Linked DNA regions of Homo sapiens. The gene in region 1 interacts genetically with each later gene. Each region holds a gene or a part of one and is shown in the gene's direction. Other genes may lie near its edges.

Region 1 (8,004 bases):
TAATGAGATGATAGGGCTATTTTTTATTTATTTATTTATTTATTTTTTTTTAGAGACTGAGTCTTGCTCTATCACTCAGGCTGGAGTGCAGTGGCATGATCATAGCTCACTGAGACCTGGAACTCCTGGGCTCAAGTGATCCTTCCACCTCAGCCTCCTGAGTAGCTGGGACCATAGGCTCATGCCACCATGCCCAGCTAAATTTTTTGTTTTTTGTAGAGACAGGGTCTGGTTGTGTTGCCCAGGCTGATCTTGAACTCCTGGGCTCAAGCTATCTTTCCACCTTAGCCTCCCAGTGTACTGATATTATAGGTATGTGTGCCTGCCCATCCTTTTACCTTGTATTTATTTTTTAAATTTTTATTTATTTATCTTTTTATTTATTTTGAGACAGACTCTTGCTCTGTCACCCAGGCCGGAGTGCAGTGGCATGATCCCGACTCACTTAAACCTCCATCTCCCAGGCTCAGGCGATTTTCCTGCCTCAGCCTCCCAAGTAGCTGAGACTACAGGCACATGCCATCACGCCTGGATACTTATTGTATGTTTTGGTAGAGATAGAGTTTTACCATGTTGGCCAGGCTGGTCTCAAACTCCTGACCTCAAATGATCGCCCGCCTTGGCCTCCCAAAGTGCTGCGATTACAGGCGTGAGCTACCACGCCTGGCCCCTGGCCCATCATTTTACAATTTTTAAACATTTTATAGAAATAATTTTAAGTTTACAAAGCAGCAAAAATAAAATAGTATGAAGAACACTTATATAACTTTTGCCTAGATTCACCTGTTGTTAACATTTTATCCCATTTGTTTTAGCATTTGTACTCTTATCTAAATAAAATTGTAAATGTGTATATATACACGTTGTTTACATACCTGTCTATAGTGTGTACATATACATACATTATTTATAAGCTATATAATGCACACATATAATCACAACATTTAATATATATTATGTATTGATACAGTACTTGAATCTGTCATCCATATTTTAATTTTGGATGACCTAATGTCCTTTCTTGTTTTTTGAAAGGACATAGGCTGGGCGCGGTGGCTCACGCCTGTGATCCCAGCACTTTGGGAGGCTGAGGCAGGCGGATCACGAGGTCAGGAGATCGAGGCCATCCTGGCTAACACGGTGAAACCCCGTCTCTACTAAAAAAATCCAAAAAACTAGCCAGGCTTGGTGGCGGGCATCTGTAGTCCTAGCTACTTGGGAGACTGAGGCAGGAGAATGGCGTCAACCCGGGAGGCAGAGCTTGTAGTGAGCCGAGATTGTGCCACTGCACTCCAGCCTGGGCGACAGAGTGAGACTCCGTCTCAAAAAAAAAAAAAAGGACATGAAATTTTTAAATATTTCACTTGTGTTATCAGTTTTATGTAATTTAAGTGGGTTTAACAGTCTTTATATTATTTTGCCTCAACTGTTAAATCATATGTGTTTATTTCTACATCTTCTCTTTTATAGCTTTATTTAGTTTTATAGATTTAACCACTTTTTTTTTATACTTTATGTTCTGGGATACATGTGCAGAACGTGCAGGTTTGTTACACAGGTATACATGTGCCATGGTGATTTGTTGCACTCATCAACCCGTCATCTAGGTTTTAAGCCCTGCATGCACTAGGTATTGGTCCTAATGCTCTCCCTCCCCTTGCCCCTGACCCCTCAATAATGTCCTTTATATCAGTGTTTTTCCCTTCGGTCTAGGTCAGATATTGCATTTAGTTATTTATTATCTTTTTAGTCTTTTAATCTGAAATATATCCATAGCCTTTTTTTAAAATGTTTTCTGACATCAACCTTTTTGGGAGAATTACAGTGTATCCCTCCTCCCTCCACCCCAGGAATGGGCTGTTCCCCATTTTTTGTTTGTCTGATGTTTCCTGATGGTTAGATTGAGGTAGGCATTCCTGACTAGAAAACTGCATAGGTGATACTTTGTCTCTCCAAGAATGTCTCATCTGGAAGCACATGGTGTCCATTTATTCCTCATTGGTGACATTAATTTTGGTGACCCAGTCAATATTTCTTTTCTGTGTTGTCTTCCCTTGCAACTACTATCTAATCTGTAGGGATATACTTAAAGACAGTACAAATACCCTCTTCCTCATCAAAATTTCTCCAAAGATTTTGCATCAATTGATGATTCTTGCATAATTAGATCTTTCATTGATGCTTGCAAAATGATGCTTTTAATTCTAATACTTCTTGCATATTCACCAGTGAGCCTTGGTATTCTACTGCCAGCAAGAGCTCTCCTTCCTTTCCCATTTGTTTGTCTTTTTACTAGCAGTACAAACTTATGGATTCCTTTTTTCAATGGTTTATAATTAATTATTTAACTATTTTGCTGCTTAAATTATCCGATGTTAGGCCAGTGAGAGCCTCTCCAAACTGTGTCCTGTGTCTTTGTGGCATGCTCCCATTTGATTTTGCTCCTCACTTTCTAGTACAACAAGATATTACAGGTTCATCATGCACCTGCTCTGCCCAGTCCTGGAACTGGCCATTTCTCGGCGGAGCTTTGAGGAGCTTTTTAGGGGAGAATGGTATTAGAACCCAAGATCTAGGTGCAAGGTTACTGAGCTCCTTGTTACTGAGATGTCTTTGCCTCTTGTCTTTTTCAGTGGACAGAGCTAGAAAATATATGCTTGTATCCTGTGTGTACACATACATATATACAAATATACATCCATACATATATACACACACAATAATTTAAATACAGATGTGCACACAAACATAGGTTTGCTGCATTTCTAACCATGATTTTAAGATCTTTTCAGTTTTGTAATGTAGGGAATTATTTACATACAGGTTATACATTTACAGGCAGATTTGTAAGTGTTGCACCCGTTTTATAAAAAGAGCTGGTGAATTAAAGAGTAATTGTATTTTTCTTTCTTTCTTTTTTTTTTTCTGAGATGGGATCTCACTCTGTTGCCCAAGCTGGGATGCAGTGGCATGATCGCAGCTCACTGCAGCTTTGACCTCCTGGGCTCAAGTGATCCTCCTATCTCAGCCCCTCAAGTAGGCTGGGACCAAGGCGTGTGTCACCCCGTCAGGCTAATTTTTGTATTTTTTTTGTAGAGACAGGATTTCGCCATGTTGACCAGTGGTCTCAAGCTCCTGGGCTCAAGTAATCCGCCCGACTCGGTCTCCCAAAGTGCTGGGATTACAGGCATGAGCCACCGTGCCTGGCCAGAGTAATTGTATTTATTATATGTATGGTCGTGTCCTCTGTTCCTTACATAGTTGTTTTTGTTTGTTTATGAGACAGGGTGTCACTATGTTTCCCAGGCTGGTTTTGAACTTCTAGGCTCAAGCAATCCTTCCACCGTGGCCTCCCAGAGTGCTGGGATTATGCCACTTTGCCCAGCCAAATTTTTAAGTTTTAATTACTGAATGAGTATTACTGATATACTTGTGTTTCACCATTAGGATTTGAGTTCTTGATATAGTTCCAAGCATCATTTTTTATATAACTTACACAGATGTCTTTCCTTATCAGTGGGAAAGAGTGGAACTGAATGTTTGAGCCTGTTGTAACATTATTTTAATATAATAAGAAATTTTTAGATTTTTTTCATAAAACGTACTTATTTTAAATAGTTACAAGGGAGCAGAGTTTAAATCTTGCTATGTGAGACTTTTGTCATGATTCTTCACTAGAAGTTTGTGATTTAAAGATTTGTGATGAAGAAATTCCACTATGCAAGTGGCATGGCTTCCCAGTTATAAAATCTCAGCTCTTGAGAGGGCCTCAGAGCTAACTTCTACCCCAGGTACTGTGCCTTGCACAACATAAGGCAAGCCAGCCTCTGACTGAACATGCCTGGAAAGGAGTTCAATATCTTACTTAACATCTCTCAGGAAGATGTGCCATCTTCAACTGGACCATTGGCTTCTGAGTAAGCTGTGTTAGGCCTGGGCTAGACCTAATGGTTTATTATTGGTGGAGAGAAAGATCTGGAAATACTTGAGGTTATTACATACTAGATTAGCTTCTAATGTGAACCATTTTTCTTTTAACAGTGATAAATTATTATTTCCGAAGTTAACTGTTCCCTTGGTCGTGATACACACTCGATTAACAAACATACTGTTGTATTTTTTCCAGTTTTGTTTGGCTATGCCACCACAGTCATCCCCAGGGTCTATACATACTATGTTTCAACTGTATTATTTGCCATTTTTGGCATTAGAATGCTTCGGGAAGGCTTAAAGATGAGCCCTGATGAGGGTCAAGAGGAACTGGAAGAAGTTCAAGCTGAATTAAAGAAGAAAGATGAAGAAGTAAGCCATGGCACTGTTGATCTGGACCAAAAAGGCACTCAACTAGGAATAAACACTCTACAGAGGTTTCTCAGTGGCCCCATCTGTGTGATATGCGGGGCTACACAAAAATAGCTTCTTTTGCTTTGTTCTGTTCTTATACCTGTCTGTGATCTGACTTGGGGTTGGTGTGAATGTAGTAGAGAAAGGAAGCTGACAGATGAATACTGAACACAGGTAATCAGTTTCCTTAATTAGGTTGATTATAAGCTCCTGAAAAGCAGGAACTGTATTTTATAATTTTACCTGTTTCTCCCGTGGTGTCTAGGATAGTAAGTGAGCAGAGCAGTAAATACTGTTTGGTTTGTTCAGCTGAGGAGAAACGGAAGAATTGAGACTATAGCATTTGTTGCTGTGTGAGACCAGTGGTTCAGAGGGGAGGTTTGGGGGTCACATAAATGTAGTTTTTTTGGAGCATATTTCATAGAATTTAAACACTTAGAAAAGTCAAGTGATTTGTGTGCTATTTTGATTTGCTTCCTGTGCTTACTTTCATTTGTTTATTATTTATTTTAGTTTCAACGAACCAAACTTTTAAATGGACCGGGAGATGTTGAAACGGGTACAAGCATAACAGTACCTCAGAAAAAGTGGTTGCATTTTATTTCACCCATTTTTGTTCAAGCTCTTACATTAACATTCTTAGCAGAATGGGGTGATCGCTCTCAACTAACTACAATTGTATTGGCAGCTAGAGAGGTGAGTGATATTTGAGAGGAGACTGTTTAAAATGAAACGTAATTATTATTACTTTGTTCCAGAAAACACTGGACACACTGAAGTGGGCCACAGCATTCCTTCATATGCAAGACTGTTTTACATCTGATAATTCAGCTGCTCTCTAAAATTGGCCTTCTCCCAGTTCCTGCTACCTGCAGGTGAAATTCTTGTAACCAAGCTCAGTTGGGCTCTTTTTACTCATCCTTTTCCCTTTGGTTTTGCCAAAATGATGCCGTGGTACTTGTCATCTTAGCTTGGTTTTCTTATCATAGAACTTTCTTTTTTATAGTTGTTGAGAATATAAATCAGTATAATATTATTGAAGGCCATTTTGGTGTTTAATACCTAAAGCCTTAAAAATGTGTAGCTAGCCGGGCTTGGTGGTATGCACCTGTAGTCCCAGCTACTCAGGAGGGTTGAGGTGGGAGGATTGCTTGAGCCTGGGAGGTTGAGGCTCCAGTGAGCTGTGTTCGCGCCACTGCACTCCAGCCTTGGTGACAGGGAGACCCAGTCTGAAAAAAAAAAAAAAGTGTATAGCTTTTCGTTCATGTGTTACACTAAAGAAATTGACTGTTGCACAGACTACTTATAATTATTGTAACTTAGTAAAAATTTAGAAACAGCCTAATAATCCAGCAGAAAATTGGTTCAGCTGTTTACAAATCTCTGTGTAGCTCTTAGAATATTCACTCTTCAACATCATTTCAGTGACATGGAAAAATTTTAAAAGGAGGTTTACTTTTAAAATATAAAAAGAAGGCCGGGTGCCGTCCCTCACGCCTGTAATCCCAGCACTTTAGGAGGCCAAGGTGGGCGGATCACCTGAGGTCAGGAGTTTGAGACCAGCCTGACCAGCATGGAGAAACCCCTACTACTAAAAATACAAAAATTAGCCGGGCAAGGTGGCTCATGCCTGTAATCTTAGCTACTCAGGAGACTGAGGCAGGAGAATTGATTGAACCGGGGAGGCAGAGGTTGCAGTGAGCCTAGATTGCACCACTGCACTCCAGCCTGGGCAGCAGAGTGAGATGCTATCTCAAAAAATTAAATAAATAATATATAAAAAGAACAAAAAAGACTTAAGGAAATAAAAACATTATTTTTATTTCAGTGCTTATCTATCGTTGCGTACTGCTATTATGGGTAATTTATTTATTTACTTTTTGGTAGGGGTGGGGTCTCACCATGTTGTCCAGCCAGTTTTGAACCCCTGGCCTGAAACTTCCTGCCTCAGCCTCGCAAATAATCCTTCTGGGATTATAGGCGAGAGTCACTGCTCTGGCCTAGGTGACTTGTTTGTTTCTGTGTAGGAACTTTTTGTTCAAAAAGTCTTAGCCCAAGAATCCTAAGTTCTGGAGTGGGAAGCTAGAGACCTCAGCTCATCTTGTAGCTTTTACTCTTCAGATGAAGAACCTGACCCCCAGAGAGATCGGGTGACTTGTGTGAGGGAGTAAGCTGGCTGGCTGTGGCCTTCTTCACAGTTGTTCAATGCCACTTATTTAAAACATGCCCATTGGTTTTTTATTTTTTAATTTTTCTTTTGATGGGAATAGCAAGGTTTTATATGAGGCGCCTGTCATTGTTCACACAGATTTATTAAGATTTCATGTGGAGACGGTTGTGGAATGGAATACTGCTGCCACTTTTCAACCTCTTTTTCATCTTAACTGATACTATTTCTTATCTGTGTTTATATCAGATTCTCTTTTTATAAGAGTAAAATTGTTTCTAATTCCTTGGAACTATCATAAAAGAACAAGTTCTTTAATTATAGGCTGTGGTTTAAAATACAAGACAGTTGAAGGCCAGGACTAAGATAGATGGGAAAGGCTATTTTGTCAGGGAAGCCTCAAAAATGCTGTATTTTGGGGAAAAAAAATGGAACTCTGATTTTCATTTGATTCTCATAAAACAAACTTTCTTTAAAAATATCACTTTAATTAGCTGGGCGTGGTAGCGGGTGCCTGTAATCCTAGCTGCTAGAGAGGCTGAGGCAGGAGAATCACTTGAAACCGGGAGGCAGAGGTTGCAGTGAGCCGAGATGGTGCCACTGCTCTCCAGCCTAGGTGACAGAGTGAGACACTATCTTAAGAAAAAAAAATATATATATATATACATATATATTTATTTATTTATTTATTTTATTTATTTATTTAATGGCTGTACCCTATATTCTTCTTGATTTCTAGCCTTTTATTGGCTCTCAGATTGCCAGAGTTGGGACTCAATAGTAAGTAACCATTTTGTTGAGGTGGTAGTGATTCTACCAGGGTGAGTTATCATGACAGCAGAATCACTGCGTTTTTCTCTCTACTCTGTGGCATAGACTCTATGCCATAGAGTGACGTGTGAAAGGCTTGAGGCTCCCTACCTACGAGACACCCTGGTCCATTCTAGCAGTATGGCACGTGCTGACTGGGTTTTGAGTCTCTTGCTGTAAAATCACATTACTGCACTTCCCTGCATTTTCTCATCCAAAAATGGGGATTACCTGCTTTGTGGATCGGTTTGCAGATGAAATAACACACGCAGGGTATCTAGCATGGTCCCCCACATGGCACATTCAGTGTTAGCCACACTTCCATACTAACTGCCCTGCGGGGATATTTAATGAGCTCTTAAATGGCAGAAATGTTGTGTCTTTTCCTGTTCCCTTAGTATTCCTATTTTTGTTGGTAATTTTTCTTATGAACCATGCAGTTGTCTAGTTCAGGCCATTTTAGTATGCAGTTTTATCTTTGCTTCCAACATGATTTAATGTTCCCAAATTGGATTTCACATAATCCTAGTGTCCTTTGAGACTTGAATTGGTTCTAGGCCAAAAAAGGGTGAGGGGGAAGGAAGAAATTCAGAGTCAAATTTGGCAAATAATATATCCCTGTCGTTTTGTTTTTTCTTTTTAAGACTTGGGCCAGGTGTGGTGGCTCACGCGTTTAATCCCAG
Region 2 (7,392 bases), on another chromosome or scaffold:
TACCTTTGTATCTCAAAACAAATCCTGTAGTTTATATAATTTGGAATATTGTATGTCTGTTTTCCATGGAAATGATGAAGTTCATTGGTCATGGTACTCTTGGGTCATGGGACTCACACTCACTTTGCTCTTACCTCTTTCTTATTTTCACATGCATCCCATCGACACTCATGTCTAATCCAGAAGACTGGTAGTATATAAGATCCCAAATATTACCACTGGCTCAGAATCTGAGCCAATGAATGGAGAGACTATGTCATACTTGAAATAAACTTCTTTAACAATAAAAATTAAGAGTATAAGTTCTCTCATTTCATCTCAGTTTCATCAAATATTTCATGTTTAAAATGCTAGCAAGTGTGAAAGAGGCTATGGAATTTTGTGAGTGATAAAATATTTGTAGAGTACTTGGGGATCTGGATCTGGGTGCTATTAAAACCAACCAAACACAAGTAGCTCATATGAGTCCTTCAATTTTTATTCTTGCTTCCAACTTTTAATCTTCCAGCACTGCCAAAACATGGAACTAGGCAGATTTATAGCAATTCTGGTAGATGTTTGTTAGGAACTGATTTCGTACAACACTCTTGGCAATAAAACTATAGTTTTCTAAACTTGACATTTAGCATGTCCTTTATCTTATAAGAAGAAAAATACTTCTGTTGTTCTGTTGGAGTAGGTTAGCTTATAAAAATAAAGTGATGCATCTTTATATGTTTTTAACGTGTCCAACTTTGCCAGGCATGGTGGTTCATGCCTCTAATCCCAAGCACATTGGTAGGCCGAGGCAAGAGGATCTCTTGAGCCTAGGAGTTCAAGACTGCAGTGTGCTATGATGGCATCATTGCACTCCAGCCTCAGCGACAGAGACTCTGTCTCTTAAGTTAGTAAGTAAATAAATAAAATGTTCAACTTAAAATAAAATTACAATTTCTTTTCTAGCAGCTAGGTGAAATTTCTTAACTATTAACCTCTGGTACTTTAAACAACATTAAAACAGCCTTTAAAAGAAGACATTAATTAATTGAGGAAAGATTTTAAAATAATTTTTTCCAAGTTTTAATTTTTAAATCCCTAAAGAACCACATATTCTTGTACCATCCAGGTTTATAAAAATGCAGCTATCAAATTTGATATTAAAAACAAGATACCGCACACCCTTTGTGGAATAAAGCACAGTATAAAGAAAATTAGAATGTCATGACCATTCTTCTTCAATCTTTCCCATTTGTAATATTTCCCCCAAGCGGAAAAGCCTGACAAATTTCCCTTTCTTGCACGTGACCACTTTTTGCATCAGATGCATTTAATTTTGTAGGTTAAATATTCAGGACAAAAGGAGAGTAGAAAGAATTTTTAGAGCTTTGATTTCTATGGAAGCAATAAGCTGAAACTTGGAAATAATATGTTTCATTGCCATCAATCCCATTGTAGCTAGCTAACACTCCAGGGATTTCCTTGATTCTCTCTATAATAATCTTATACTTCTATAGTGCTTATAATTTGCAACCTGTGTTCACTTACTTTATGAGATTCTTACAAAAATCTTTTGAAAGAAGGCTAGTGTGTATGTATATGTGGGTGTATGAATATACATATATATGTGTATATGTTTGTCTATACATATACATATGTGTGTGTATGACATATATATGTATATAGTCATCCCTCATTGTCCACAGGGGATCGGTTCCAGAACCCCCTCAGACACCAAAATTTCCAGATGCTTAAGTTTTTTATATAAAATGACTAATTGGTCAATTCTTCTTGGTAAAGTTGATCTTGATCTTACCAGTTTCTTTTTTGGCTTAGTAATAGGAACAATGATTTTCATAATTTAGGGGACCAAAAGTAAAATTTCAGTTTAAGTCATTTTAGGAATAAACCATGGAGCTATAAATCTTTTGGAGGAGTTATAGATTCAGTGTTAATGCTAGAGTATTGCAGTATATTAATACAACAGATAGTTCTGAAAAGTTGCTTTAGAAAAATGTTTCAGCTAAAGTGACCCAATACCAAATTCTGTACAGTTACCCTCTATTTTGTAAATGCATATGTTAATATCAAAGTATTTATATTGTGTAATTTCCTACCTTAGGTGCTTTTGTTTTTAATATAATGCTGTTTCAAGGTCGAATATGTACAGTAATAACTGTTACAAATTGATTACGAGAGATCACAATCATTGTACAAATCACAGGCTATGTCATTGTGTAGACAAAAATCACTGACCATGCATGCCAGAGGTGGATCATAAATAGTAACTCCTAAGACTAGAAATCTACTTGATATTTTTATGGGTTCATCTTTAAAAGTGACCTCGCTGAATAAAAGTTCAATATTTCTTAAAAGAAAGGTAAATCTAAAAACCGTCCAGAATTTTCGATCCTAGTCTAGTACCACTTACTTGGGAACAAATATAGAAGCACAGGCAACCCCGTCCGTTAATTTGGCTCCGTCATTGTGCAGACAAAAATCACTGACCATGCATGCCAGAGGTGGATCATAGTTAACTCGTTAAGACTAGAAATCTACTTGATAGTGATTTTTATGGGTTCATCTTTAAAAGTGACCTCGCTGAATAAAAGTTCAATATTTCTTAAAAGAAAGGTAAATCTAGAAAGCTGTCCAGAATTTTCAATCCTAGTCTAGTACCACTTACTTGGGAACAAATATAGAAACACAGGCAACCCCGTCCGTTAATTCTGATGTTGAACGTGTGGTTAGAGAGCACACTGCGATATGTTACAGGACCTGAGATAAAAAGCAAATTTGTAAAGTGTCTAAGTGTTGATGGAGAAAAACACATCTAGCATATACGGAAATTTTCTTTTGAGTTCTCTGTAGGATGATCACCAACTCAGTAGGTGAAGCCCTGCCCTCTAGTGGTTATGGGTGTGAGAGGACTTCTGTTCAACATTATATGTCTGGCTCACCACGGTTTATTAAAACCAATCGTTCATTAAAAAGCACTTATTAGGGGTCTGGGTAAGATGCCGAGCAAGTGAAATGTTTACGTGTGAAAAGGCATTGACACTGGACAAAGGTACAGCTGCTAAAAGAAGTGCTCGTTCATTGGCTTCGACAGCTGTACGACTGGTTTCTAATTGCTGTTCCAGCCTCTCCCCAGTTCCATATACCACAAACGAATGAAAAAGATTAGCTCTCCCTGGAGCTCTCTGAGGCTGAACCTTGCTCTCTCATTACACATGGTAACTAAGCACACCCCTTAAAGAATTTTGGGAAGTCGCCCCGCGATTACCGGCTCCCCCAAGAACCAAGCAGTCAGTGCAGGGTTTTGCAAGTGAGAGTGCGAGACTCGGGAGGCTGCTCACGGTGCTCCAGTCCCTGGCAGGAGCATGGACACCTCGCCCCTTCCTTCCGTGGGCCTCAACGTTGCCTGCTGAGATTGTGACTGCCACCCCGACGGGAGCAGCTTCCCCTACAGACTTTGTAGAGAGCGCTTAAACGCCTCGGGGACAGCGGCCATGACTCTCAGCTTGGGCCGACCCCGCGGCCGCCCCACGGGAATGCGTGGCCGACACGGGGCGTGGGCGAATCTCCGACCCTCGCGTTCAGGGGGTGCATATAAACGGGCGGACACCGTCCCTGGGGTAAGGGAGGCGCCAGCAAGAACAAGGCGGGCCACCAACCCCGAGCGACCTCCTACCGGACGGATCCAAACCCAAACATTGTCCATTCCGGGCCGAAGTCTCGGCCTTCACTTCACTTCCGCCTTCCCAGCCCGTGAACACGAATGCGCCTGCGCGCACCTCTCTCAGCGGAAGTAATAGTGACAAAGCTGGGTTCGCGGCTGGCCCAGGAGTGCGGGGCGCGACTGGGCGGCCGGCGGCGGGGAGGGGCGGAGCGCAGGAGTCGGAGGCGGGAGCAGACCAGCACGGCCTCGCGGAGCCGGCCCGGCGGACCGTGACGGGTCCCCTCACCTCCTCTTCTCTCCCCTCCCCGCCCGCCCTCTCTCCCTCCCTTCCTCCCTCCCGCTCGCTTCTTCTCACGCCGGGAGCAGGCTCCCGCCTCGCACCGCTGCCCCGCGAGCAGCTCCTCTTCTCCCGAGGCGCGCGGGGCGCCCCCGCGAGCCCCGCGGCTGAGACCCCGCAGCCTGGAGGAGGGCTGTCCGGGGCTTTGGGTGGGTACCAGTATTACCTCCTGCCCCCATTTCTAGAAACTTCCAGGTTCTGAAGGAAGGGGAGGTTCGGGTATCCCCTGGATGGGGGGGCATCTCTAGGGCGCCGCCCCGCTGGCGTGAGCTGGGGACGTTGCGGGCACACGACGGGGCGGGTGCGGGATCTTGGGGAGGGGGGCTCCCGAGATAGTGGCTGGGCGGGGAACTCCTTCCTCAGCCTCTCGTCAGCGCCGCTTCTCCTGGTTTCTCTTGCAGATGCTGCTGCTAGGGGTGGTGGGAGCAGCCGTGGGACGCGTGGCCGGGAGCGGGGGTGACAGCCTGGGATTCCGGGGGCTTCTCTTCCTTGTCCTCCTCCTCTCCTCTCTATTCCCAGTGTGGCCGTGGCTGACACTAAAGACTTTGTAGCCATCAACCCGAGTGCAGTTTCGATGGAAAATGAAGGTAAAGGCCCCTGGCCGACCGGTTGCAACGCGGAGTTGAGGGTGTGGTGGTTTGCTTTTAAGTTGTCTTTGTTTTTCCACCTTTTTATTTTCGTGAGCTTATTTATTTACTGTGTATGTGAAGTGTCCAAGGATTTGCTTACTTAGGGTATCCAGCTTTTATTTTGGTAACATGGGGCATTTGAGAGATTGAGGTTCTGTGGGTGACTGAGCTTGATTCAGCTTTCTTGAGGAATTCCTGCTCTCTTCAGCTTAGGGAATGAGAGGGAAGTTTTCATTTCAGATAGCGTCTGTGCATGTTTAAATAGCTATTTGAAAGGAATTACTCGAGGGGAAGTGGAAATGGGGGACAAGGGGATGGGGCTGCATCTCTGTATATTGGCGTTTCAAGCCTCGATGTGGTGTGTGGCAGGATTCATTTATAAGAAAGCAAGCCATGTTTTATTATGTCTAGCATTGGGGAAAAAACTCATTATTTTTCAATTCACAAAAAAAACCCAGTGAATTTAATGAAATGTTATGAGATGAGTGCTTTTCTTAAAGTTCCACCCTATTTCAAAACATCATTTAGGAGGCTGACAGCGGAACCTGTTTGTTCACTGTACACTTTGGACACATTAGATCGTCATTCACATGTTACATGATCCCTTTGGCCTCGTTAAAATATTTAATGCTTTTCCTACACAGCACTGATTATTTTTAAAATTGTTGAACAACTGTGAATAAGTGATTTTTTTTCCCCCTCCTGAAACAACACTTATTCTTTGGACTGACTTCTGACTTGTGCGTGATCATTTTTTTTTCTTCTGCCTTTAACCGGGCTGCAAAATACTATAAAAGATACTTAACAAATGACAGTTTTTTCCTCTGGTATAATTTGTTTTAAAAAATATGTGTCTGGTATAAAGGAGCTGCAGTCTTGCTGGCTGCTTCTAATTTGTTTTTCCATTGTTGAGAATGTAAGCTTGATTGTCTGACTAGGACTAGTAATTTTGAAATGGGTGTTTCTTATAGATGCAGTAATGTGTTTTGCTCTCTGAGACCTCTGGGCTATGTAGGGAATATGATGAGAGGCATGATTATATTGACAAATTTTACTCTGGATGGATAATTGGCGGAAGACATTTTCTGAAATACTAAAGTGTATAACTGCAGAGGAGTTATACTGTCTAATTGGGTCTTGAGAAACATTTGAAAGCAGTGATGTTTTTGGTGATAAGGAAAGTCACTTTTCTGAGCCTTTTTCCTCTCTTTTAAGTTTATTGATTTAAGAAAGGCAAATCCATTCTGCACATGAGACAAAGAATGTTAAATGCATTCATATACTTGTTTCTTGGTAGAAACATCTTAAATAACTTCTAACATTTAATGTATGTTTATGAGCTTGTTTTCAGAATGGTACCAGATTTAAGAGGGTAGCCTAAAGTAGGTGGATTCTTTCATGTTGCTTTTGTTTCTTGATCTCTCAGGAGGAAGAGCATGAGTAATAAAGCCGATTCTCATTATCTACTGAGGTGGGAGGGGGTGGTTGTGAGATAGGAGAATGGTGCCTACTTGTGTCTGTCTCTGTATTTTGTGGCCAAATATGAATTTTGTGGTTTCATAGTAAAAGATTATACAGTTCTTAAAAACGTGTGGGGTTTTCTGTCCCGTTATTCTTGACCATCAAGAGACCATTTTTGTCAGTTTCTCCCTATCGTCACATTTTTTTTTATATATAAACAGTTTGAAGAAGAGCCTGTATATAGCCTAGAAATTTTCAAAAGTGACTGACCATATTAAACTACATAGATTGATACCTGTGCCTTTTTATTGTTCACTTGCCTTTTTGTAGTTTTCATCCTTCTTTGATATAGTGTAGTATTAACAATTTGGAGGTGTGAAACAAAAATGGATTCAAGTCTTGACTAACTTGTCTTGAACCACTTAAAGCTGTGTGATTTTAAGTAAATTACGTCACCTTTCTGAGCCTGTATTTCTTCATCTATAAATTGGGATTGATAATCTTTAACTCACAGAATTGAGAGGATTAAATGAGAAACCCTGTATAAATTCTCTTGTGAGGTAGGAATGATAACGTTTAAGAGCTTGAGTTGTGGTGGAACCATGCAGACTGATTTGAATGCTGGATTCGTCGCTTACCATTTGGCTTTGTGCATATTAAAGTTTTCTGTGCTTCCGTTTCTTCATAAAATAAAGATAATGATAGAACCTACCTTATGAGGTTGTTGTAAACATTCAAACAGTATCTGGCACATAGTAAGTGCTCGGTAAATGTTAATTATAAATTGCCTAGCTGAATGTTTGATACATACTAATAGGCCACCTGGCATTAATATTGTCATGACAGTTAAATGTTGGAAGGGGGAACAGTAGTAGCCAAATGCTCAAAATGAAGTTGTCATTGTTAGTTGAGGGATAAGTGGAGTTAGGTAAGGAATTTTCTATGGCATTAGTGCTTTTAAGCCTACAGAAAAAGTTAGGGCTCTACCAAGAAGCCAGGGTCCAGTACAGAAAGAGACAGGTTTGGATTTGAAGCCCGACAAGTAATGTTTTCCTCTCCTGAAAAATCTGACAAGTTACTAGGCTTCTAAGCTTTCTCAGCCTCTAAGTTATCTCATCTGTAAATGAGATAATGCCCTCTTGCAAAGTTGATGTGAGTAATAAATGAAGCCGCCAGAGCAATGTTTGACATACAGTTAACTTGGATGAATTGAGTGATGCTGCTGTTCCCTAGTAAGAGTATCCTCCAGTAGGTATGCAGGTAGTTACATTTGTGGGTGTGAACAGTGTAGAATTGATAGTGTTTCC

What was found.
Region 2: changes in TMEM165 (region 1) and ATP2C1 are lethal when combined (synthetic lethality), as found in Homo sapiens cells (one study listed by BioGRID).

Annotation. Positions count from the first base shown.
Region 1 is NC_000004.12:55,412,946-55,420,949, forward strand, and holds part of TMEM165 (putative divalent cation/proton antiporter TMEM165 precursor), read left to right. Parts: intron 1-4,126; coding exon 4,127-4,302; intron 4,303-4,857; coding exon 4,858-5,040; intron 5,041-8,004. UniProt on the Homo sapiens protein: Putative divalent cation:proton antiporter that exchanges calcium or manganese ions for protons across the Golgi membrane.
Region 2 is NC_000003.12:130,890,194-130,897,585, forward strand, and holds the start of ATP2C1 (calcium-transporting ATPase type 2C member 1), read left to right. Parts: upstream 1-3,890; 5' UTR 3,891-4,144; intron 4,145-4,356; exon of another isoform or gene 4,357-4,396; 5' UTR 4,397-4,576; coding exon 4,577-4,582; intron 4,583-7,392. UniProt on the Homo sapiens protein: ATP-driven pump that supplies the Golgi apparatus with Ca(2+) and Mn(2+) ions, both essential cofactors for processing and trafficking of newly synthesized proteins in the secretory pathway.